Homo sapiens: one gene and its partners. The protein of the gene in region 1 interacts with the protein of each later gene in a pairwise test. Each region holds a gene or a part of one and is shown in the gene's direction. Other genes may lie near its edges. The genes, in order: ANXA7, MPPED1, HMGXB3, CTSB, CELF3, COL11A2 and ANGPT2.

What was found.
Region 2: the proteins of ANXA7 (region 1) and MPPED1 interact in a two-hybrid assay, tested with the Homo sapiens proteins (one large-scale study listed by BioGRID and IntAct).
Region 3: the proteins of ANXA7 (region 1) and HMGXB3 interact in a two-hybrid assay, tested with the Homo sapiens proteins (one large-scale study listed by BioGRID and IntAct).
Region 4: the proteins of ANXA7 (region 1) and CTSB interact in a two-hybrid assay, tested with the Homo sapiens proteins (one large-scale study listed by BioGRID and IntAct).
Region 5: the proteins of ANXA7 (region 1) and CELF3 interact in a two-hybrid assay, tested with the Homo sapiens proteins (one large-scale study listed by BioGRID and IntAct).
Region 6: the proteins of ANXA7 (region 1) and COL11A2 interact in a two-hybrid assay, tested with the Homo sapiens proteins (one large-scale study listed by BioGRID and IntAct).
Region 7: the proteins of ANXA7 (region 1) and ANGPT2 interact in a two-hybrid assay, tested with the Homo sapiens proteins (one large-scale study listed by BioGRID and IntAct).

The regions. Positions count from the first base shown.
Region 1 is NC_000010.11:73,376,059-73,379,558, reverse strand, and holds part of ANXA7 (annexin A7), read left to right. Parts: intron 1-535; coding exon 536-648; intron 649-3,341; coding exon 3,342-3,464; 3' UTR 3,465-3,500. UniProt on the Homo sapiens protein: Calcium/phospholipid-binding protein which promotes membrane fusion and is involved in exocytosis.
Region 2 is NC_000022.11:43,410,706-43,414,813, forward strand, and holds the start of MPPED1 (metallophosphoesterase domain-containing protein 1 precursor), read left to right. Parts: upstream 1-1,308; 5' UTR 1,309-1,453; intron 1,454-4,108. UniProt on the Homo sapiens protein: May have metallophosphoesterase activity (in vitro).
Region 3 is NC_000005.10:150,031,739-150,035,238, forward strand, and holds part of HMGXB3 (HMG domain-containing protein 3), read left to right. Parts: intron 1-715; coding exon 716-865; intron 866-3,500.
Region 4 is NC_000008.11:11,861,588-11,865,087, reverse strand, and holds part of CTSB (cathepsin B isoform 1 preproprotein), read left to right. Parts: intron 1-604; exon of another isoform or gene 605-712; intron 713-2,609; exon of another isoform or gene 2,610-2,743; intron 2,744-3,500. UniProt on the Homo sapiens protein: Thiol protease which is believed to participate in intracellular degradation and turnover of proteins. Cleaves matrix extracellular phosphoglycoprotein MEPE. Involved in the solubilization of cross-linked TG/thyroglobulin in the thyroid follicle lumen.
Region 5 is NC_000001.11:151,703,304-151,706,803, reverse strand, and holds part of CELF3 (CUGBP Elav-like family member 3), read left to right. Parts: intron 1-69; coding exon 70-135; intron 136-442; coding exon 443-580; intron 581-838; coding exon 839-982; intron 983-1,635; coding exon 1,636-1,763; 3' UTR 1,764-1,773; intron 1,774-3,355; 3' UTR 3,356-3,500. UniProt on the Homo sapiens protein: RNA-binding protein involved in the regulation of pre-mRNA alternative splicing. Mediates exon inclusion and/or exclusion in pre-mRNA that are subject to tissue-specific and developmentally regulated alternative splicing.
Region 6 is NC_000006.12:33,178,968-33,182,467, reverse strand, and holds part of COL11A2 (collagen alpha-2(XI) chain isoform 1 preproprotein), read left to right. Parts: intron 1-1,297; coding exon 1,298-1,357; intron 1,358-1,462; coding exon 1,463-1,504; intron 1,505-1,737; coding exon 1,738-1,800; intron 1,801-2,135; coding exon 2,136-2,210; intron 2,211-2,662; coding exon 2,663-2,749; intron 2,750-2,980; coding exon 2,981-3,037; intron 3,038-3,183; coding exon 3,184-3,237; intron 3,238-3,341; coding exon 3,342-3,395; intron 3,396-3,494; coding exon 3,495-3,500.
Region 7 is NC_000008.11:6,501,689-6,504,245, reverse strand, and holds part of ANGPT2 (angiopoietin-2 isoform b precursor), read left to right. Parts: intron 1-984; coding exon 985-1,145; 3' UTR 1,146-2,557. UniProt on the Homo sapiens protein: Binds to TEK/TIE2, competing for the ANGPT1 binding site, and modulating ANGPT1 signaling. Can induce tyrosine phosphorylation of TEK/TIE2 in the absence of ANGPT1.

The DNA.
Region 1 (3,500 bases):
AAAGAGAAAGGGAAAGTCCTGAGGAACTCACAGTGTCACCACGAAGCAGTTTGAGTCCTCAAAACAGATATTTCAGGTACTCAGCCCAGTGAGACTCATTTCCTTTTTGAAGTTAACCAGTTTCTGGTGGTCTAATACACAGATGTCTAACAAAGTGAAAGTTTCATTCTCATGGATATTAGGACTAAGGGGAGTATTAGTAACACTTTGGTATTAACAATGGAATGTTGGGCCAGGGGCAGTAGCTCACACTTGTAGTCCCAGCTACTCAGAAGGCTGAGGTGGGAGGATCACCTGAGTCTGGGAGGCTACAGTCAGCCATGATTGCACCACTGCACTCTAGGCTGGATGACAGAGTGAGAACCTGTCTCAAAAAAAATCAAGGAGAGCATCTGAACACTCTTAACTCACCCCATGTTTCTGTGATGATTACAGAGAAAATAATCAAAGGCAGGCTATAAGTGATAAATGAAGCTGGAGGGGTACACTTCTTGTGAGATCATGATTCCATGTCTCAACCATCTCTAACTTGCAGTGCAGTGTGCCCTGAACCGCCCTGCCTTCTTTGCTGAGAGGCTCTACTATGCTATGAAAGGTGCTGGCACAGATGACTCCACCCTGGTCCGGATTGTGGTCACTCGAAGTGAGGTGAGGCAGGCCTCTCTCTTTTTGTCGGGTCTTACTTGATGTTCAATGTTGATTTCTTAAAAGTTCCCCAGTTGGTTGTCAGTCCCTCAAAAATGATAAGAAAGAGCTCTCTTTGCCACCTAAAAGAGGTGGTATAAAGAACAGAAAATTCACTTTCCTCATGCTGTGGGAGAAGCTTGCATTAGTGAAATAGGCCACTCTACCCTAATGAAGATAATACTAACAGATTTTACAACTTGAGAACGTCAATGGAGAATACAAATTTATGGGAAGTTAGACATTTGTCTTTCGATTTTCATTTTGCTTATATAAAAATTAGATGAAAGGCCTATGTAGATTAATCCTAGTGGATATCAACATTATTTAAATTTAGCATCCTTTATTAATAATAAAACAATTTTTAAAATATTCATAATTGTCTCAAGTATAGCCTCATTTTTAAAAATTGTACTTTATATATTTACTCCACTTACAAAAAATTTTTTTTCTCAGAAGAAATGACATTTGAATTTTTTTTTTTTTTTTTTTTTTTTGAGACATGGTCTCACTCTGTCACCCAGACTGGAGTGCAGTGGCACGATCTCAGCTCACTGCAACCTCCACTTCCTGGGTTCAAGCAATTCTGTCACCTCAGCCTCTCGAGTAGCTGGGACTACAGGTGTGCGCCACCATGCCCAGCTAAGTTTTTGTATTTTTTTGGTAGAGATGGGGTTTCACCATGTTGGCCAGGCTGGTCTCGAACTCCTGACCTCAAGTGATCCACCTGCCTCGGCCTCCCAAAGTGCTGGGATCACAGGCGTGAGCCACCACGCCTGGCCTGAACTTTTAATTGAAAGAAAACATGGCGGGGTGTCGTGGCTTACTCCTGTAATCTCAGCAGTTTGGGAGGCCAAGGCGGGAGGATTGCTTGAGCCCAGGAGTTTGAGACCAGCCTGGGCAACATGGTGAAACCTATTTCTACAAAAAACACACGCGCGCGCACACACACACACACACACACACACACGCCGGGGCGTGGTAGCCTGGGCAACATGGTGAAACCTATTTATACAAAAAATACACACACACACACACACACACACACGGTGAAACCTATTTATACAAAAAATACACACACACACACACACACACACACACCCACACCCACCCCCCGGCATGGTAGTCCCAGCTACCCAGAATGTTGAGGTGGAAGGATCACCTGAGCCTGGAAGGTCAAGGCTGCAGTGAGCCGTGATCGCACCACTACACTCCAGCCTTGGTGACAGAGACCCTGTGTCAAAAAAATACCCTAAATTATTATTATTATTGCGTGTTTTTTTTTTTTTTTTTTTTTTTTTTTTTGAGATGGAGTCTCGCTCTGTCACCCAGGCTGAAATACAGTGGCATAATCTCGGCTTACTGCAACCTCTGCCTCCCGGGTTCAAGTGATTCTCCTGCCTCAGCCTCCTGAGTAGCTGGGATTACAGGTGCGTGCCACCATGCCTGGCTAATTTTTTTGTGTTTTTAGTAGAGACTGGGTTTCACCATGTTGGTCAGGCTGGTCTCGAACTCCTGACCTGATGATCCGTCTGCCTCGGCCTCCCAAAGTGCTGGGATTATAGGCATGAGCCACCACACCCGGCCAAAAACCCTAAATTATACTAAAGAAGGTAGATTATTTTTAAAGAAAACAACCAGAATATGGTATTTTGAAAAAAACTTTGTTCTTTAACTTAAATTTTCAAAGCAGGATGTTTTAAGTTGTGATAAAATATACATAACATAAAAATTTACCATTTTTAAGTAGCAGTAAGTACATTCACATTGTTATGCAACCATCATTACCATTCACCTTCAGATGTTTTTTCAACTTGCAAAACTGAAAATCCATACTCCTTAAACAGTAACTCCCCATTCTCCTTTCTCCCAACTGCTGGCAACAAACCATGTGACTTTCTGTGCCTGTGTTTGACTACTCTAGGTACGTCATATTGGTGGAATCATACAATATTTGTCTTTTTGTGAGTGTTGTCTTTTACTTAGCATAGCGTCCTCAAGGTTTATTCATGTTATAGCATGTCAGAATTTCCTTCCTTTTGAGACTGAGTAATTAAATAGTCTATTGTACGTGTATCCCACCTTTTGGTTTTTTTTTTAATTCATCTGTGACACTTGGTTTGTTTCTGCCTGAATAATGCTGCTATGAACATGGATGTACAAATATCTGTTCAAGTCTACTTTCACTTATTTTGAATATACCCAGAAGTGGAATTTCTAGGTCATATTGTAATTCTTTGGAAGTGTTTTTGTTTTGCTTTGAGGAATTAACCATATTAGTTTCCACAGCAGCTGCACCCTTTTACTTTTCCATCAACCTGTGTACAAGTGTTCCCATTTCATGGCATCCTTGCCAATACTTACTATTTTTTTGGTTTTGATAATAGCCATCCTATCAAATGTTTTTAAATGACTAATATCTTTGGAATAATAGATGAAACTAGTACTACCCTGACCAAGTATTTTACAGAGCTGTGAATCAGACCTTCATTGGGTAGTGCTAGCATTGGTATGAGTGCCAGCCATAAAATGTCAGTCACTTGGTGTTTTCCCCCCCAAGTTTTGATTATTATTAAGATCTTATTATTTAAAAAGAATTTTAAGAAATGTCAGTTGTCACAGATGTTTTTCTGACAGAAATATTATTTCTTATGCAGATTGACCTTGTACAAATAAAACAGATGTTCGCTCAGATGTATCAGAAGACTCTGGGCACAATGATTGCAGGTGACACGAGTGGAGATTACCGAAGACTTCTTCTGGCTATTGTGGGCCAGTAGGAGGGATTTTTTTTTTTTTAATGAAAAAAAATTTCT
Region 2 (4,108 bases), on another chromosome or scaffold:
CACTCCCAGCCTTGCCACCTCATCTTCCCTCCCTTGCTTTTCCTTTGTCTCTAGCCCCAATGAACTCACATGCCAAGGCCTTTGCATGCCGCATTCCCTCGGCCTGGATGTCTTTTCCAGGCCTTCTCTCCTGGCATACACTCATTCAACTGGGCTGTCCCCACCTCCAGGAAGCCACACCAGATAGCAGTCCTCAGGGGCAGAATAGGCCTGAGGGGCCCGCAGAGGGTGTCCTTGGGGATTGTGTGATGTGTGTGTTGGTGAAGGGAGACCCTACAAGCATTTGTTGAGGGGCTTTGGGCCTCTGAGGAGCCACAGCCCCTTTTCATCTTCCTCTCAGTCTGGGAGGCCCAGGCCAGAGTGATCTGCACCCTAACTATACAAGGCCCTGGAATCCCCGTCCCACCCGCGGCAAGGGGCTGGAAGCCACAGGGCCTTAAACTCCCCAGGGTGACCCCCGACACTGAAGGCGATGGTCTCTGCTCTTCCCAGCAAGGCAGGGCCTCTTTACACTGGGTGTCGCGCCGTCTGAGTTCCTGACTTGTTTACCCATCCCGTTGGGGCTCCGGCCGCTGCAGGCTACCTGCTGTGCCCGGGATTGGGGACCTGTGACTCCCGAGTGGAAGAGATGGTGGCCCAGGAGGAGGACCCCGACCTATTCAGACTGGGAGCTGGGGTCAGAGTGTCTCCGTCTCCGGAGGGGGACCTTCCAGACCCCGGGCGGGAGGGGCCCACAGCAGGGTGCCCCGGCGGCCCCAGGAGGGGGTCCGGGCCTCGGGCGAAGGCTGCGGCGCCCCGGAAGGAGCCGCGCACGCCCCTGCACGCGGTGCCCGCTGCGGAGGCCACGGATCCGGAGGTGAGAGCGCCCCCGCCCCGCTCCCTGCCCAGCCCGCGCGCGGCCCGGTCCGGGGCTGGGGGCGGGCGCCAAGAGGGGCGCCGGGCGCAGTGGGGCGGCCCCCTCCCTTTTCCGCAGCGCGGGCCCCGCTCCTCCTCCCGCGTCCAGGCCCGCGGCCGCGCTCCCTGTCCCTCCGCAGCGGGATGCGGACTCCGAGCCCGGGCGGGGGCCGAGGGCCGAGGCCTGGCGGGCCTGGCGGGGGCCCCGGCGGGTGGCGGCGCAAGGGCCGGGACCGAGGCCGCGAGCGCGCCCCTCCCGGCGGCCGGGCGCGGAGAGGCGGGGAGGGCGGGCGTGGGGAGGCGGGCGGCGGCGGGCGGGGGGAGCCAAGGAGGCTCGGAGCCTCGCGGCGCGCGGGCGGGCGGCGGAGGGGGCGCGGGGAGCCCCCCGCCCCACGAAGGAGGAGTCTGGCTCCCACTTGCAGCCTCGGACGCGCGGCGAGGCGGCCGCCGCCGGAGGAGCCCCCGCCCCTGCGCGCCTCCCTCCCGGGAGCCCCTGCCTCCCTCGGTGCGCGCTGCTGCTCGCAGCCGCCGCGGCCGCCGAAGAGGAGCCCGGGGCCAGGTAGGACCGGAGGCGGGCGGGGCGCGGCGGGCGCGGGCGGGAGGCCGGGCGCGGGGCGCGGCCGGGACCCTCTCCAGGCGCTGGGCGACGCCCGCGGCGCTGCGCAGGGGCGCCCGCAAAGTTACTTTGGCCGCCTTTGCCGGGTGCGGGAAGCGGGCTGGGCACCCCAGCTGCCCCGCCTGCCTAGCGGGCGGCGGCGGGAGGGGGCTCCGCCAGGGCGCGGGACTCCGGCTGGGGCCGCGGGGTCAGCGAAACTTTTCCCTTGCTCGCCAGTCGCTGCTGCTGCTGGCGGAGTAGCTGGTGGAAGCAGCGGGCTGGTGGAGTGCCAGTGATGATGATAGTGGTAACAATAGCAGCCCCCGCTTGTAGAGAGCCTACTGTGTGCGCTGCCAAGCCCCTGCTGGCACTTGGGGGGGAAGAGATAGGGAACGAACGCTGGCCGAGTGGCCACTTTTGCTAGGTATTGCTGGAAACTTCATCCATTTCCTTCCATCCATTCATCCCTCCCTCCCATCCATCCATCCATCCATCCATCCATCCATCCACTCACTCAACACATATTTATTCCTGTCTGCTATGTGCTCGGCCAGGGGATTCAGTGGCTACCTAGACAGGTCCCAGCCCTCAAAGGGAATGTTGATCATGGAATGCCCAAACTAAGGAGCAGTTCTGTCTCCTGTGTGTTTGTTCTGGGACATGTTACGGGAGCGTGAATTCATGCTGTCTCCCTTCACCCTGGCAGGGCCAGAGGCGTGTCATTCAGAGCACTGATGTGCCCAGGAGTCTGGCAGGCCCCGGCCTGGCCTTCGGAACTCACCCTGCTCCTTTCCCTCCCACCTCTCCGGGCTCAAGCTGGGTGGCCCAGTTGGTGTCAGGAGGCTCCACTCCGGAACTGGCCCCCACCCCTGTCCAGCTGACCTCTCTGGGATGTCTCTTCCCCAGTGCTGGGCTGGCCTGGCTCCCAGCTCCCCTCCCAGAGTTTCTTTGCCTTCCCCCTCCCCATTTCCCCTGCTCTATTGAATGGCCCAGAGGAGAGCTTGTTAAGTGGCAAACAATTATGAAATTAAACTGGGGGAACAAAAGTGGGCTGGCTGTTGAATGGCGGAGCTGGCTCACGGGAGTTGAATGGCACTGGGAGACTTGTTAGCAGGGATCTGCGGCGCCGGGGGGCGGGGGCGGGTCAGGCAGACAGGCACTGTCAATAATCTGACTGGACTTTGCAAAAAAAAAAAAAAAATTAAACCAACTTGGTGAGAAACCTGGCACAGGGCGATGTTGGAGAGGCCACCAGCTGACTGCCACGTCCAGTCGGAAGCCAGATCTTGGTGTACAGGAGCCAGGGCTCTAAGAGACTATTTGGGGAGGGTGCTGATGGATTCGGCCGGGCTGAGGCAGGGGAGAACCTCAATGCGTTTGAGCTTGTGGTGCTAGGGAGGCATTCTGGAGCCAGGCGCAGTCTGCAGGGGCCCTCTGTGTGGGAACCACGCATGATAAACTGCGCTTCACCGTGCTGGGCTCCTTGCAAATTGGCTTTCTGAGTGGCAGCCCCACAACACTTGTAAAATCTTTTTCTGGAGATGGATTTCGGTGGAATGGTTCCATCGATTCTAGTGCTTGCTCACTGGAGGTACATTAATTGGGCGATGGCTAGTCAAAAGGCGATAATCCAGTCACGGAGGCTTAATCGTGTGTTCGGAAGTGTTTCAGTGTGGGACTGCCTTCCTATTTATTTCTCGGCCCCAGGAATTTCGGAAGACCTGGATTGAATGAGGTCCCTGTACTGGTGATGTGGATGGGTTCAGAGAGTCACCTACATGGCCGAGGAGGTACCTCTGATGTAACCACCCCGTGGTACGCTTAGAATCACTCACATCCACCCTGGCTGATGCCCCGTGGGCTATGCCTGTAGACAGATAGGACAGGTTTAGATCTAGGCGAACAATAAGAATTTTAGGGTGTTTTACTTGAGCCCCAACTGTCAGGAATACACAGACTGATGTAGGGAATCATCGTTCTTGAAAAGCCTGCTTTTAATAAATTCCCAGCTCACCCATGAGACTCTTAAATCTTCATCCAATGAATGTGGCTTAAGTTCATTTGTTCTTCTTTGAACTTTGCTACCTTCCCAACTAGGCAGTACGGGCCTTGGTATGCTCACTTTATACAGGACACATCTCTCTCTGCTTGTTTGAGGAATGACGGTGGTCGCTGGGATTCCGTGAAGGGCAGCATTAAGGAGAAAAATCAGCATTCTGGGTGCGGGTCTGGACTTCTGGAAAAAAAGAAAACCCTCCCCAAAGTGCAATCATCTTTTAGTCTATCAAAATGACTTCATTTTCCCAATTTCAGGCCTGTGAACTGATCATGAATACCGGGGGCAGAGGAAATTAATCAGCCAGGCAAAGACTTTTAACAAGTAAATATTATGCACAGAAAAACATGCAATTAGTGGAGGTTAGTTAATGCCTTTCAAGTTGCATCAGGCTGCAGTTAAGGGTGGAATTTCTGCGTTATCCCTGGATTGTCTGTCAAAGTCTTTAATGTGACAATGTGACATGTCTCTCCCATCGCCCCTCCCTCACCGGGAACAAAAAAGGGTCTTTTCACGAATTCCCCCTTTCCATTCTTCTTCTCCCTGAGATCTTTCCGTTCAGC
Region 3 (3,500 bases), on another chromosome or scaffold:
AAAAAATATTTATTGAGCACATATTCTGTACTAGGATCTGTACTGGGGATTCAGTAGCAAACAAGACAGCACAATGTGATGGGTTAATGTCTGGCCTGACCTGATCCATAAGGAGAATGTGTCTCTTATCCTGGAGATCTGCTCAGGTTTCTTTCTCTTGTGACCTAAATATAATCACTACCTTTTCCATGCCTTCACTCACCACTCCCTTTGGCTACAGGAGGCAACTAGATTTACCATTTAGGGGGAACTACCCCTGAGTAGACCCTCTCTTCTGCTGATTAGATAGTAACTTGTCATAGGAGCTTAGATGCTAGAGCTTTGAGCTTTAATAGTCTGTAAGTCACAGTTTGTCTTCAGGCAGGGCTTGAACTCTTTAGTTCACCAGTCTCAAGCACTCTTTGTTTAAACAGACCTGCTTTACTCCACCAACTGCCTGGACCCTGAAGGCATTTGAGTTTCTGACCATTGAGAGTCAACTCTCCTGTTTCACAGATAGGGAAGGACTGGACTGGATTTGCCAAAAATTTACAGCCTGTATTAAAAGTAAAAGAGTTAACTGCAGAAAAGGTTAAGGCTCTTGAAGTTAGGCTGAATCTGGTTTGCAGTTGCCACTCTCTTCTCTGATTTACTGGCAGCTGCTCATTCTGGTTCTGGGTTCTGCCCAGGTTTAACTTAATTTTTGTAGAATTGAACACTGGTCTTACTTTTTTAGGATTTGGGCCTGGCTACATCAAGAGGCCGGGGAAAGTGCAAGAATCCCTCTTGTAGCTATGTCTACACCAACAGGCACAAACCTCGAATTTGTCCCAGCTGTGGTGTTAACCTTGCCAAAGACCGGACTGAGAAAACCACCAAGGCTATCGTGAGTTCCTTCCCCCAAACACATCCCCTGGCCTGTTCTGGGCTCTGTTAGTGAACCTGTCTTAGTAGAAATAAGAAGATTTTTAAAGTACATGGTGGTAGTTAGAGCATCCAAACTGAACCAGTTGGTGGGTTCTGAACCTGAGCAAGTGCCGCCTTTTCTCTGAGCCTCCTTGTCCCCATTGCCAGGGTGAAGGGGTTGACTAGGTATCTTGATCTCTGAGAACCAAGAGTTCACTCACTGCAGAGAATGATGTAGCACAGGCCTTAAGTAGGAGTGAAAGGAGAGGGACGAAAGGGTTGCATCCTCTTACCGCTGAGGCCTGATACAAGACCTGTAAGTTGATTTACTGTTTCGGTAAATAGAGAATGCCAACCTGAGACTTTGCAGATTAGACCACCGCTGCTTTCTCAGGCTCCTTGGAAAGCTTTTAGTTAATCAAAGCTTTATTTCTAGCAGTCTAGGCAGCCCTCCTCTCTGAAGTTGGGCCAAACTACTTGGGTAGTAAAATACATTCCACTTGGCTCCTTAGGGCTGCTATTATTATTATTACTATTACCAGGAAAAATGGGCATTTTCAGAGGTCCCCAGAATTTCCATATGAGTTTTTTAAAGTGAACAGAAAATGGTGGCACTTGAGGCAGCAAATGGAAGGACTAAAATAAGGATGAGAAGAGAAATGTCACTGGTCTGCCTTGGGGAAAGAGGGGATGGCACACAGAACAGGTCAGGACCTGAGATGGAGCCTGGTCACTCCAGATCAAGGCTGGACCTTGAAAGGCAGGCAGGTTTTGAATGGAAGGGGAAGGCATGCCATACTTAAGTCTCTCCCACTAGACTGTAGTCTGGTGAGTGAACATGAAGTGTGAGTATGGATAAGGATAAGTGTGAGTGATAAGGATAAGTGTGAGTGAACATGAAGAGTGTTCCATTTGGCTGGAGGAGATGGCGTGGGGGCATGGGGTGGGAGAAGGGGTGTTACGGAAAATAAGACGTGAAAAGCATCTTGGAACCATGTCATGGAAGGTCTTGTCAGTTTGTTCTTTAGTCAGTGGGGTCCTACTGAATGTCCTTGAGCCGGGGAGAGGCCTAGAGGAAAGTTATTTCAAGAGGGGAATTTATGGGATGAGAGTTTGGGAGTAGACAGGACTACAGAGGTGGGGAGAACTGCTTCAAGCTTAGAGGTTTATTTGTATATGGAGAGAGGCCTTTTTGATGATGAATCTCACCCTGGTCTCCAGAGTCTGTTTCCGTGCTTGAGGTGATGTTCTGAGGTTATTGTCCTTGTGAGAAAGGAAAGTGGAACCAAAGTATGTGGGCACTAATGGCTTGGTGGGAAAAACACTGGGGCTGGGAGTGACCCTGAGTTGGAAGCTTCCCTCTCCCGAGCTTTAGTTTCTCCATTGGTAAAGTAAGGTGGGCAAGGTAGATTAGATCTGGGCATTTTACTCTTAAGAGACAGGAGCCTTAGAGAAGACTGATAATTGAGTTTTAAGGAGTTTATAAATCCCTGAAATTGCATGCAAAATGGGTCCGTAGCTTTCATCAGATTCTCTTGCTCCACTGGATGCCTGCTGCTGGAAGTAAGCTTTCTTCCCGGATTTTCAGTGGGTTTCAAAGTGCTCTTCTTGCCATAGCATTGATCACACCCCATATTGACTGCTTTTCTTAACTCCCTATGAGACCACAATCTCTTCTAGGGCAGGTATGTCTGTTTTTCCTGCACCTTCTAACCCTGGAGCTTACATATACAAAGTGTGTCTATCTGTAATTAGGAGATAGAATTGAGTTCTGTGTAGGTAGAAGCTCTGAGCATTCCTTTCTCCTTCCAGTTCATTTTAGCTATTTGCGCGGTTTGCAGTGGAAGTGGGTGTTACTCTCTAGATCTAGGATGATGAAGGAACTTAACTTCTCAGGTGACATAGGAAATTATCTAGGGACCTCTTGCCAATTTCAAATCCCACTCTTAAACTTATATCCATCTGTATTTGGTTAACTGAGAACTGCCCACCCCCAGGACCCTCATCTGCAGACCTTCCATCACTTTCCAATCTCCTAAAGTTTGGAGAAATACAGTGTAATTACTGCTTTCCAGAAAATAAAGCACTGGTCAGAACCACAGGGATCTTCTTGTGTGTTGTCATTTGGAGCCCCCTGGTAGCCAGATGTTTTCACATCTCTGAGATGGAATGGTCTTTAGTCCTTTCTATCCTTCATCTCTGGCGAGAGTCACGGGACAGTATTCCTGCCAAGTGGTCTTCCAGCTGTGGTTTCATAGTCATGACTGAGAACACACAGCCTCTCGGGGCAGCTCATTCTAGTGTTAGTCAGCTCTTCTGTAGCCACTGATTAATTAATTCTCTCAGCCAGCCTATATTGAATGCCTGCTATGGGCCAGGCTTTCAGAGATGAATAGGACGTGGCCCTTTCCCTTGAAGAGCTTACAGTCTAGTGGGAGAGAAAGATAACCAAGCTATTACAAATGAAAGTTGTCATAGGTATGCGGAGTTAATAAAAAGCTCCTTATTAAGTGTCCTAGTCTGTTTTGTGTTGCTATAAAAGAATACCTGAGGCTAGGCAATTTATAAAGCAAAGAGGTTTATGTGGCTCATAATTTGGCAGTCTGTACAAGAAC
Region 4 (3,500 bases), on another chromosome or scaffold:
CAGGCAGCAGTCTCTACGTCTGGTCCCAGGCTGCCTGAGAAAGAGCATGTGGGAGGCAAACCTTGCGCCCTGGCATGGTTGTTAATGTTTATATTTACCCTAGCTTGTGTGGGGTAGGAGGTTTAGGGATCAAATTCCACTCTGTGTTTAGACATTTTTTTCTTTCTTTTTTTTTTTGAGACAGTTTCACTCTGTCACCCAGGCTGGAATGCCGTGGCACAATCTCAGCTCACTGCAACCTCACCTCCCAGGTTCAAGCAATGTTCCTGCCTCAGCCTCCGGAGTAGCTGGGATTAGAGGCATGCACCACCATGCCTGGCTAATTTTTGTATTTTTAGTAGAGACCTCAAATGATCTGCCCGCCTCGCCTCCCAAAGTGTTGGGATTACAGGTGTGAGTCACTGTGCCCAGCCATGTGTTTAGACTTTTAACTAATCTCTTTTTTAGTTTCAAGCCTTATCGTCCGCCTCTGTAGACCACTCCTGTGCCTGTTTCCTGATCCTTCCAAGGGCCATTGTATTCCCTGTCTGCTGCCCCTCTTTTGGATTCTTCTGCACATTTTTTTGTTCATGCATTCATTCATTTATTGTTTGATTAATGACAGGGTCTTGCTTTGTCTCCCAGGCTGGTGTGCAGTGGTGCGACCACGGCTCACGGCAGCCTCAGCCACCCAGATGTAAGCGATCTGGTTCCCACCTCAGCCTCCCGAGTAGTAAGTAGCTGGGACCACAGGCGGTGCCCAGGTTTTTTTTTTTTTTTTTTTTTTTTTCGTTGGTAGAGACAGGGTCTCACTGTTGCCAGGACTGCTCTGAAACTCCTGGTTTCAAGTGATCCCCTTGCCTCCTCCCACTTAGGCCTTCCAAATGCTGGGATTACAAGGCATGAGTCACCTCCAGGCCTTTTTGTACTTTTAAAACTCTGCATCAGTGTATAAACAATGTTATTAAAGTTTATATGACTTCAGTTACACTACATGGATCCTTTTTCACTCACGGTTGTGAGATTTATTTCTGTTGCTACATCCAGTTCTAGTCCATTTGTGTTAAGTGCCCAGTGTGTTTATCTACTGAGGGACAGTTATGTTATTTCGTGTTCACTATTATCCCATGCTACAATAAATATCCTGTGTCTCCCAGATACTTAGAAGAGTTTCTGCAGGGCACATGTGGGAGAGTTTGTTTCTGGGTCATGAGGTGTGTTCATCTTCCATCTTGCTAGATGCTGGCAAAGGGTTCTCCAGTGTGGTTGCATCAATTTACTCGCCCAGCAGTGTGCAGAGTTCCTGTTCCTCACATTTACCAACACTAGATAGTACCAGACTTTGATTTTTGCCAATCTGATGGGTTTGAAGTGGTACCCCTGTTTTAATTTCATGACCAGAAATTCAAATTTAATCTTTGCTGTAGGACAACAGTAACCCACTTATGCCTAGTGTTCCATTATTAGAACGCTAAGCATGTGGGAGTTTTTACATCATACTGCTCAAGGTCATCGCCAAGGTCTGATGTTTTTACTCGTGCAAAAATTTAAAAAATTGCAACCTCTGGCATAAATGGGTTGAGTGACACTTTTCCTGTTTTTATTGTTGGTCAGTGATGGCATATTTGCTGGGTTTTTTTGTTTTTTTTTTGAAACGGAGTCTCACTGTGTCGCCAGGCTGGAGTGCAGTGGTGTAATCTCGGCTCACTGTAACCTCCGCCTCCCGGGTTCAAGTGATTCTCCTGCCTCAGCCCCCTGAGTAGCTGGGATTACAGGCGTGTGCCACCACGCCCAGCTAATTTTTGTATTTTTAGTAGAGACGGGATGTCACTATGTTTGTCGGGCTGGTGTTGAACTCCTGAGCTCATGATCTGCCTGTCTTGGCTTCCCTAAGTGCTGAGATTACAGGCCTGAGCCACCGCTAGCCTATTTATTTTTTATTTTAAATTTTAATTTTCTATATAGAGACGAGGTCACTATCCTGCCCAGGCTGGTCTTAATCTCCTGGGTTCAGTCAATCTTCCCACCTTGGCCTCCCGAAGTGTCAGAATTATAGATGTGAGCCACTGTGCTCAGCCCAGAACTGATGTTTTCTAAATGCTGGGTGCTGAGAAGGATGTGTGGCTGGCAGTCTTGACTGTGTTATCTGTCTTTACCAGGCCAGTAACTTCTTTGGTCTGGTCATCAAGATAATCTAGCATCACCAGCAAGCATGCATGGAGAAGGATGGGCCCAATGTGGCCAAGATGGTAACGGGACCAGTAGAGAGCCCTGTAGAAGACATCTAGATATTCTGCCCTAAGAGCCCGGAGGGCCGGGCTGTCTCATGACCCTCTGACGTGCTGACCTGGACTCTGGCAGAATGTGCACACACACAGTCACACAGCTTCCTGGCTTGCGCAAGTCCCAGGAGGGCGGTGCCAGCCACAGGCTTTTCCCATTCGAGGGTTGGAAGCGTATCATCAAACCACATCAGAGTGCTGGGGGCCACCTGCCACCCATTCCCAACCCACTCAGCCTTCCTGGTGTTTGGGACATGCTTTGCTTTGGCAGTCAAGACAGCAGAACAAATCAACTTTTAAGGCCTTGTCACTGATAGTACAATTTCCATTATTTTTCATCCAAATTAGGATACTTCTGAAAATAGAAATGATGACTCTGGGATGCAAACGTTGGCTGTCCTATGTATAAGGAGATGGCTTTTCACGCTCCCAGTGACTGAGGAAGTTTCTCCCAGATGGCGCTGCTCTGAGCCTGGTGCAGGGTAGGCACTTTCAAAAGAGTGTCTCCTTGTATCTTCCATCAGCCTTGCGAGATGGGTATCTGTTCCCAGGGCCCCAAGGGAGGAAAACAGGACCTAGCTGGATCCAAGAGCTAGGCCTTTCTTTTTTTTTTTTTTTTTGAGATGGAGTCTGACTCTGTCGCCCAGGCTGGAGTGCAGTGGCGTGATCTCGGCTCACTGCAAACTCCGCCTCCCGGGTTCACGCCATTCTCCTGCCTCAGCCTCCCGAGTAGCTGGGACTACAGGCGCCTGCCACCATGCCTGGCTATTTTTTTGTATTTTTAGTAGAAACGGGGTTTCACCGTGTTATCCAGGATGGTCTCGATCTCCTGACCTCGTGATTCGCCCACCTCAGCCTCCCAAAGTACTGGGATTACAGGCGTGAGCCAGCATGCCCGGCCCAGAGCTAGGCCTTTCTGTGGCTGGCCTTCGCGTCAGCCTCAACTACCCTGGTGTAATCTCGCCTGCGGTTGAATTAGGGAACCGCCGTGTTCTGCAAGCTGGAGAGGCAGAACACTAATGAGCAGAACACTAATCTCATTGCAATCTCAAAGGATCTCTAAAAGCTTTTATAAAGCAGGCCCAAGGTCCTTTGGTATCCGATGCAGACGTGGTGAATGCATTGGCTCTGTCAGCATCTGAGCAAGTCAGTAACAGAAATGGGGAGTAAAAGCTTTCAGAACTTTCCAGAATATTGACTAAATTGTCTTGTTTACAACCAACAACGACAACAAAAAAT
Region 5 (3,500 bases), on another chromosome or scaffold:
CCCAGAGAGGCACTGAGGGCCCCCACTGTGTGCCAGGTCCACGCTCATAGTCTGTGCTGCTCTCCCCAGCCCAGAGCCCCGCGGCCCCCGTGGACCCCCTGCAGCAGGCCTACGCGGGGATGCAGCACTACACAGGTGAGGCGCCCTAGCCAGGGCCCCTGCTCAGGTGGGAGAGGTGGCAGGAGGAAAAGAGGCCCAGTAACTGGGTCTGGGCTTCTTGGCTCCCTGCCAATCACCCTCTTCAGGCTTTACTGACAAGCCCAACTGTGGGGAGGGGTCTTTAAGGGCAGCACACCCAGGGGTCTGAGGCAGCTCCTTCCCTGACCACCTCTCAGCCCTGCAGGTGCCACTGGCCTGGGCTAGGGGAAGGGAGACAGGGTTGGCTGGGAGGGCTCAAGAAGTCAGGGAAGCCCCATCAGCCTCTCTCTTCTCCCCACCCCAGCAGCCTACCCAGCAGCCTACAGCCTGGTTGCACCTGCGTTCCCGCAGCCTCCAGCCCTGGTCGCCCAGCAGCCCCCACCACCACCTCAACAGCAGCAGCAGCAGCAGCAGCAGCAACAGCAGCAGCAGCAAAGAGAAGGTGCTGGCTGGGGCCTTGGGAGACAGGAATGCCCTCGTTATGGGCTTGGGGACTCCCTGTCACCCCGCGCTGAGCCCAGCTCTTGCCCACGTGTCAGGATGAAAGCAAGTGGGGAGGGAGTGGCCGGAGACTTGGCCCACACTGTCAAGGACTGGGACTGGAGGGCACTCCCAGGATCTGCTTTCCCTGGGACATTTGCTTCTGGGGTGTGTGCCTCCCAGTCACTGAGCTCTTTCTTCTGTCTCTGTCGCCACCCAGGCCCTGATGGCTGCAACATCTTCATCTACCACCTGCCCCAGGAGTTCACTGACTCAGAGATCCTCCAGATGTTTGTCCCCTTTGGCCACGTCATCTCAGCCAAAGTCTTTGTTGACCGAGCCACCAATCAAAGCAAATGTTTTGGTAAGAATATGATATGGCACATTTTTTGCCATACTCCAAATCAGGACAAGGTCTAATATATTTGAAGGCATTTATGGTCACAGTGGACCCAGTATTTGAAATACTGATTATCCAAGAGTACAAAAGAGCCATTTTGACACACCCAACATGCCACACCCAGCTGCTGCCTCGGCCCATCTCTTCTTCCTTCAGCGTTTCTCTTAAAAACTGGCCAAATTCATGTCCCATGAGGTCTGAAATAGGCTTATGGTCTGGGGATGTTTGGTTTGCAAAAGGTGGGCTTGGGGAGTCGGTTTTAGCTGCCTTCACATCTTTGAAAGTCTTCCTCAGGGGAGAAAGGGAATGTTCTTCTCTGCTTCAGAAGCCATTTAGGGTCTGGAAGTGGCCGTTTTCAAAGGGCAGGCTCAGAGCTATCCAGGCAGAGGAAGGGGTCACTGGCACAGAATGCTGGGAAGAATGTGGTAGTTGGAGTGGCTGGACTGGATTCATCCATTCAACCCATCAATCAACAAATTCCTAAGGAATGCTGCTATGTGGCAGGCAGCTTTCTAGGCATTTGGGACACTTGGGAGACACAGGGTAGTGCCAGAGGTCTCCTAAGCACGGAAGAGCGAGGTGGGGCTGGGCCGGGCCTTATGCCCCTCTCACCCCAGGCTTTGTGAGTTTCGACAATCCGGCCAGTGCCCAGGCTGCCATCCAGGCCATGAATGGCTTCCAGATCGGCATGAAGCGCCTCAAAGTCCAGCTAAAGCGGCCTAAGGATGCCAACCGGCCCTACTGAGGGCCCCCAGGTGGGTCCCGCTCCGTTGTGGCCTCCCTCCCCAGCTTCACACACTGCAGCCAGGGCCCTCGATTGGACTACACCCCCAACCCCTGTCCTCCACCACCCTCAGGGATGCCCACCCCACCCTTGACCCTGGGCACTTGAAGCAGGGGGCTGGGGCAGCTCCCTCAGCTGTTTTTCAATAATCTGAGTCACTCTCTCTCTCTCTCTCTCTCTCACACACACACACCCTCCGTGACCCCAGAAAGAGCCAAGTCTTTGTATATATGTGTCCACTCCCTGGACCTTCCACAATATCTGGTCTCGTTTGTCTGGTCAGTGTCCATGTCTGTGTGTGTCTCTTTCTGGTTTTCCTTCGGGTTAGAGTGGAATTAGGGGAACAGGACTGGAGGATTAAGGGGTTGGCTGAGGGTGCCAGAGGGCCCTAGAATCCTTGGCTCCTAGAATCTCTGTTGTCCTGAGAAGTGAGGACATCAGCCCTGGTTTCCCTGGACTTCAGGTGATTTTTCCCATGTAGCAGCAGACCCATGGGGCAGCAGAGTGCACAGGACAGACTGGGGGAGCCCATTTTCAGGCCTCTTGGGAGTTGCTCTGGTTTAGGTGGAAGAGGTTGAAATGTCGCGCCGCCTGTGAAGTTTACTTAGGTCTCCTCCACCCCATTGCTGGCCACCACCTCAACCTCATGGCCACAGAGCTGTGAGCCTTGGTTACTTTCGCACTGTTTAATCTCCTTTGGACCAAACCCTTGAGAAAACACAACCCAAGAAAAATACCCACATTTTCTGTTTCTCCCCTTTCCCCCCAATCCTGGCTGCTTAACTCCCCCAACCCTGGGGGCCCCCCCAGCCCAGGGCCCGTGTCCATTGTCGGCCGAAGCCCCCATCCCCGGACCCCTGCTCCGGGCCCCTGTAAGTTGCATGGAACGAGCGTGTTGTCTTTGGAGCCGATTGTTTGTTCTTTGGGGAGGGGCCGCGGAGGGAAGCACCCCCAAGCCCAAGGTCAGGGCCGGGGGCAGCTCGCGGGACGTGCTTGGTCTACAGTGGTTGGTGACTGTGGTCTGTGTTCTGTGCATTTCTCTTGCTTTCTGTGTTCCTTTCCAAAAAGGAATGAGAGCACTAACTGGGGGCCGGGGGTGGTCTCACCCCATGAGACTCCATCCCTGAGCCGTGACCTGGGCTCTGCCCTGGCCTTCTCTGCGGGTGTTCCCTTTCTTTTTCCAGGTGTCTGTCTCTTACACGCACCCCCTTCTCTGTCTCTCTCTCGATTTCTCTGCCTGCCTGTCTGTTGTCATCTCTTTGCCTCTCTCCCCCTCCAGTCTTTATTTTTCTCATGGGCTATCTATTTCCTTCCTAATACCGTTTGGTTTCCTGTATGGTTTGCCCCCTCCCTCCTGTCTCCTCTATCCCTGCTCTCATGGCTGGGGGTGGGGGCAGATGGGTCCGTTTGGACTGAGGCCTGATGATCTGCCTTCCTCAGGCAGCCCCATCCTAGATGCTGTCACTCACCCCAGCCCCCTCCCCTCCCCCAGAGCCCGTGATCCGCATCGGGGGTCTCTTCCCCATGCTTCACCCATGTTTCTTCCTTCACAGGTCTGGAGATCCCAGAGGAAGGGGCGCCTCACACCCTCTTCCCACGACTGGCCCCGGCCCTCTCCGCACACCTGCCCTGGGCCTTGACTGGGTTCTGGGGCAAACGCTGCTTCGTGGCCCCCGGGGGCACAAGACACCGGCCCCT
Region 6 (3,500 bases), on another chromosome or scaffold:
AGTGCTGGGATTACAGGCGTGCGCCACCGTGCCTGGCCTCCAAATTTACTTAGAGTATGGATGCTTAACCTTTGGGGCATATTTAAACTTGTGAACCCTTTGAAATCCTAAATAAAATTCTGTGCATAATAGCATATACTTTTTCATTTCTGGAGAAAGACTCACAGCTTTCATCAGATTCTTTTTTTTCTTTGAGATGGAGTTTTGCTCTTGTTGCCTAGGCTGGAGTACGATGGCATAATCTTGGTTCACTTCAACCTCCACCTCCTGGGTTCAAGCTATTCTCCTGCTTCAGCCTCCCAAGTAGCTGGGATTACAGGCATGTGCCACCACACCCAGCTAATTTTGTATTTTTATTAGAGACGGGGTTGCACCATGTTGGTCAGGCTGGTCTCAAACTCCTGACCTCAGGTGATCTGCCTGCCTCCGCCTCCCAAAGTGCTGGGATTATGGGCGTAAGCCACCTCGCCCGGCCTAGCTTTTATCAGGTTCTCATGTGGGTCCATGCCCTCCTCTTACCCCAAATAAAAATCTACCCACAATCTTAGAGAGATTCTTTTATGATGTATTGGGGTAAATGTGTGGAAGGTTTCTTAAGGTTCTAGGGAGGGAGTTTGGGAGATGGGATAGGGTCCTCTAGAAGAGGGTTTGGGAAGGTGGGTGGTTTAAAATCCCTGAAAGGGGCCAGGTGTGGTGGCTCACGCCTGTAATTCCAGCACTTTAGGAGGCCAAGGCAGGCGGATCACCTGAGGTCAGGACTTTGAGACCAGCCTGGCCAACACGGTGAAACCCCATCTCTAATAAAAATACAAAAATTAGCCGGGCATGGTGGTGCACATCTGTAATCCCAGTGTAATCCCAGCTACTTGGGAGGCTGAGGCAGGAGAATCACTTGAACCTGGAAGGCAGAGGTTGTAGTGAGCCGAGATCGCGCCACTATACTTCAGCCTGGGTGACAGAGCAAGACTTCGTCTCAAAAAAAAAGAAAAACAAACAAACAAACAAAAACACTGGAAGTTTCTGGGGACCTTCCTGAAAGAGGCTCTCAGGGAGATGGAGAGGTTGTGTTTGCTGAGGTGGGGCTGGGAACTGGGGGGGCAGGGAACCCTGAGGTCTCCTTGGCAGGCTTGAAAGGTTTGTGAAGAGGGAGTTTTAGGGGAGGGCTGTGGGGCTTTCGGGTAGGGCTGAAGTGGTCTCGAGAGGATCTAAGAATCAAGGTTGGAGTTGAGATGGAGAAAGGCCTAGTGTCCTGGCTGCTCACGGGCCCCACTGGGGGCTACATGTGTGTCTCCTTCAGGCTGCCCATGGACCCCGAGGGCTGAAGGGAGAGAAAGGAGAGCCTGCAGTGTTGGAACCTGTAAGTTATGCTGGTCACAGGGCTGAGGCAGTGGAAATAGGAGAAGCAAGTGGGGTTGAGTGTGCTGGTCCTGTCGCCTCTGATTTTTAACCTTTGACTCCACAGGGTATGCTCGTGGAGGGGCCCCCTGGCCCAGAAGGCCCTGCGGTAAGTCTAGCAGTGACCTGGTGGCCATTCTTTTCTTAGAAACCCCTTCTATGTGCTCATCTGAGCCTTCCCCACATATGCCCAGGCCTCCTCCTCAGAACTCGGGAGCATCCCTCCAATCAACGCTTCCCAGATTCCCAGATCTGTTCTGCACAGACCACTCCTCAGCCACAGGCTGAGTGTCCACACCTGTCTGAATGCCCACACCTGACCCCTACTCTTTTGTTCCTCAGGGATTGATTGGTCCCCCTGGCATCCAGGGGAACCCAGGCCCAGTTGGAGACCCTGGAGAGAGGGTAAGGGGGTGTCCTCCATGTGACGGGGGAGCTTCGGGGGAGCTAGTGGTATCCAAGCGGGGGGCTACCATGCCCAGTAATTTCCTGTTAGGTGGCTTGTTAATGAATGAGGGGATGGTTGTGCTTCCCAGCAACCAGAAAGGAGGGCAGACTCTGGTTGGGGAGGGTGCTGATCTGGTTTCTCACCCTCAATTTTCCCCATGGGGGTGGGAGACTCAGGAAAGAGCTAGAGCAATCTACACTTATTCTGTTGAAGAGGATATTTCAAAATCATGCTAAGATCTTGATGTCCCCTTATCTTTCACCCCATCTTTTGCATTCTCTTCCCACTCCAGGGCCCCCCTGGCCGAGCAGGGCTCCCTGGATCAGATGGGGCTCCTGGTCCTCCTGGCACATCTCTCATGCTCCCAGTGAGTTGTCTCTTGGGTTTTGGAACATGCTGATGGGGAAGACAAGGAATTGTGTCATGTTACCAAGAACCAGATGGGCAGGAAAGATATGGAGGAGTCTCTAAAGATCATCAAAGATCATCACTCCAAAGGGATTCGTCTTTGGGGTTGGGGAGATGGGGCCTCATTAGGTGACCTAGAACAAAACACCAGTCTTCTAGGACTGGGCAGAACAGCCTATATTTCAGGAGCTCTAGAACCAAAAGAGAGTCTTTCTGGAGGCAGAGGCTGGACAGTGGAGGAGGGCAGGAGTTGAGTTTCTGGAATCCTCTAAGTGATTATCTGGAAGCCATGGGAAATGCTGGATGGGCAGAACCTGGGGCAAGGGGCAGAAACGCTGGAGAAAGCCTCTGGCTGGGAGGGTCCCATGGCTTTCTTGGAAGAGAACCTGGACCTTCTCTCCTTGACCTCAGTTCCGGTTTGGCAGTGGTGGGGGTGACAAGGGCCCTGTGGTGGCGGCCCAGGAGGCTCAGGCCCAGGCGATCCTGCAGCAGGCGAGGGTGAGTGGGGCTGCTTCCCTGGAAAGGGAAGGCTCTGGGGGGCACTGGAAGGGTTGGCTGGAGTGAGTGTGCGGCAGGGGAGGCCTGGGTTGGTTTGGGGTTAACAGGGAGGTTGGGGAGAATCCTGGGCAGTGGATGAGGATCAGGAGAGGAAGGGTGAATTTGGAGAGTGCTGGGGCTGGGGGTTCCCACTGCCTGTCCCTCAGCTCTGCTGTCCCCCTGCTCCCCTAGCTGGCGCTCCGTGGACCCCCTGGCCCCATGGGATACACAGGGCGCCCTGGACCCTTGGTGAGTGAGCAGGGTGCTCGGGTGGAGGATGCTTTAATTGTGTGTGGGGTGTGGATAGTTCTGGAAAGGGGCTTCTTTTGGGGAACACTCCGAGGCCACTGTTGGCTGTGTCCTTCCTTACGGCCATCCTCTCTTCTCTCTCCCAGGGCCAACCTGGGAGCCCTGGCCTGAAAGGAGAGTCTGGAGACTTAGGACCTCAGGTGACCACTTTCCTCCACTGCACCCCCATATCTGTTCACCAGCTCAGTCTCCCTCACTCCCCTCCCTATGCCTCCTAACCCCACCCCATCTCTCCTCTCACCAGGGCCCCAGAGGACCTCAGGGCCTCACAGGCCCTCCTGGCAAGGCTGGGCGAAGGGTGAGTGCCCCAGGGGTGGATGGGTGTTGTGGGGAGACAGGGCCTGCAGGGTAGGGGACTGCGGCCCTGCTTGTTCTGACACTTCCCTTGTTCTCCCAGGGCCGG
Region 7 (2,557 bases), on another chromosome or scaffold:
CCCGGGTTCACGCCATTCTCCTGCCTCAGCCTCCCGAGTAGCTGGGACTACAGGCGTCCGCCACCACGCCCGGCTAATTTTTTGTATTTTTAGTAGAGACGGGGTTTCACCGTGTTAGCCAGGATGGTCTCGGTCTCCTGATCTCGTGATCCACCCACCTCGGCCTCCCAAAGTGCTGGGATTACAGGCGTGAGCCACTGCGCCCGGCCCCTGCTTATAGAATATTTCTAGATTTTTCCATTTAATATTTTTGGCCCAGCTGACTTCAGGTATCTGAAAGTGCAGAAAGCAAAAATAGCAGATAAGGGGGGACTACTGTGTTTCTTTCTCTCACAAACCCCAGCATGCTCCTGTTTTTGGCCAAGCCCAGAAATTAAGGTGCAGATGGGGCTTCACTCCCACAGCCCCTGTGCTGGACACCTCTCCTGCCCTGGCTTTAGCTGAGCGAGCACACACTCTCACTTTAAATTTCCTTTTTGTCTCTGAAACATAGAGACTTCCTTTTTATGTAGCTCCACTGAGTACTTAATATTTTAGTTTAAACTTCAACCGAAAAAATCATTTAATAGAGCAAGGGGAGCCTGAGCGAGTCCAGCCCACCATGTTGCTGGGACTGCAAAGTAATCCTGGTTGAAGGAGAGTTTTCCAACTGTGCCTCAGATGTTTGCTTACTCCTGCTGTAAGTGTGTACACACTGTGGGCTTACCAAATAGGACTGTGGAGAATTCAGGCCTCTCCACACAGCACAAGGGAAAAGGTGGAAGAAGGCTTGTAAAAGCATTTGCCGTAATGGAACTGTGATGTCATGGGTGTATGGCTGGAAAACAATCCCTCTGCCAGTGCACATCCTATACTCACCATCATCTGCATGTGCCTACTCCACACGCCTGCAGTGTGCCTCCTGCCTTAGCTGAGTATTGCTGTCTTCGTGGTGGGAGCTGGCATCACCTAGTTCCTAATTCCTTCTGTGTTTTACTTTCACAGGCTGGTGGTTTGATGCATGTGGTCCTTCCAACTTGAACGGAATGTACTATCCACAGAGGCAGAACACAAATAAGTTCAACGGCATTAAATGGTACTACTGGAAAGGCTCAGGCTATTCGCTCAAGGCCACAACCATGATGATCCGACCAGCAGATTTCTAAACATCCCAGTCCACCTGAGGAACTGTCTCGAACTATTTTCAAAGACTTAAGCCCAGTGCACTGAAAGTCACGGCTGCGCACTGTGTCCTCTTCCACCACAGAGGGCGTGTGCTCGGTGCTGACGGGACCCACATGCTCCAGATTAGAGCCTGTAAACTTTATCACTTAAACTTGCATCACTTAACGGACCAAAGCAAGACCCTAAACATCCATAATTGTGATTAGACAGAACACCTATGCAAAGATGAACCCGAGGCTGAGAATCAGACTGACAGTTTACAGACGCTGCTGTCACAACCAAGAATGTTATGTGCAAGTTTATCAGTAAATAACTGGAAAACAGAACACTTATGTTATACAATACAGATCATCTTGGAACTGCATTCTTCTGAGCACTGTTTATACACTGTGTAAATACCCATATGTCCTGAATTCACCATCACTATCACAATTAAAAGGAAGAAAAAAACTCTCTAAGCCATAAAAAGACATATTCAGGGATATTCTGAGAAGGGGTTACTAGAAGTTTAATATTTGGAAAAACAGTTAGTGCATTTTTACTCCATCTCTTAGGTGCTTTAAATTTTTATTTCAAAAACAGCGTATTTACATTTATGTTGACAGCTTAGTTATAAGTTAATGCTCAAATACGTATTTCAAATTTATATGGTAGAAACTTCCAGAATCTCTGAAATTATCAACAGAAACGTGCCATTTTAGTTTATATGCAGACCGTACTATTTTTTTCTGCCTGATTGTTAAATATGAAGGTATTTTTAGTAATTAAATATAACTTATTAGGGGATATGCCTATGTTTAACTTTTATGATAATATTTACAATTTTATAATTTGTTTCCAAAAGACCTAATTGTGCCTTGTGATAAGGAAACTTCTTACTTTTAATGATGAGGAAAATTATACATTTCATTCTATGACAAAGAAACTTTACTATCTTCTCACTATTCTAAAACAGAGGTCTGTTTTCTTTCCTAGTAAGATATATTTTTATAGAACTAGACTACAATTTAATTTCTGGTTGAGAAAAGCCTTCTATTTAAGAAATTTACAAAGCTATATGTCTCAAGATTCACCCTTAAATTTACTTAAGGAAAAAAATAATTGACACTAGTAAGTTTTTTTATGTCAATCAGCAAACTGAAAAAAAAAAAAGGGTTTCAAAGTGCAAAAACAAAATCTGATGTTCATAATATATTTAAATATTTACCAAAAATTTGAGAACACAGGGCTGGGCGCAGTGGCTCACACCTATAATCCCAGTACATTGGTAGGCAAGGTGGGCAGATCACCTGAGGTCAGGAGTTCAAGACCAGCCTGGACAACATGGTGAAACCCTGTCTCTACTAAATAATACAAAAATTAGCCAGGCGTGCTGGCGGGCACCTGTAATCCC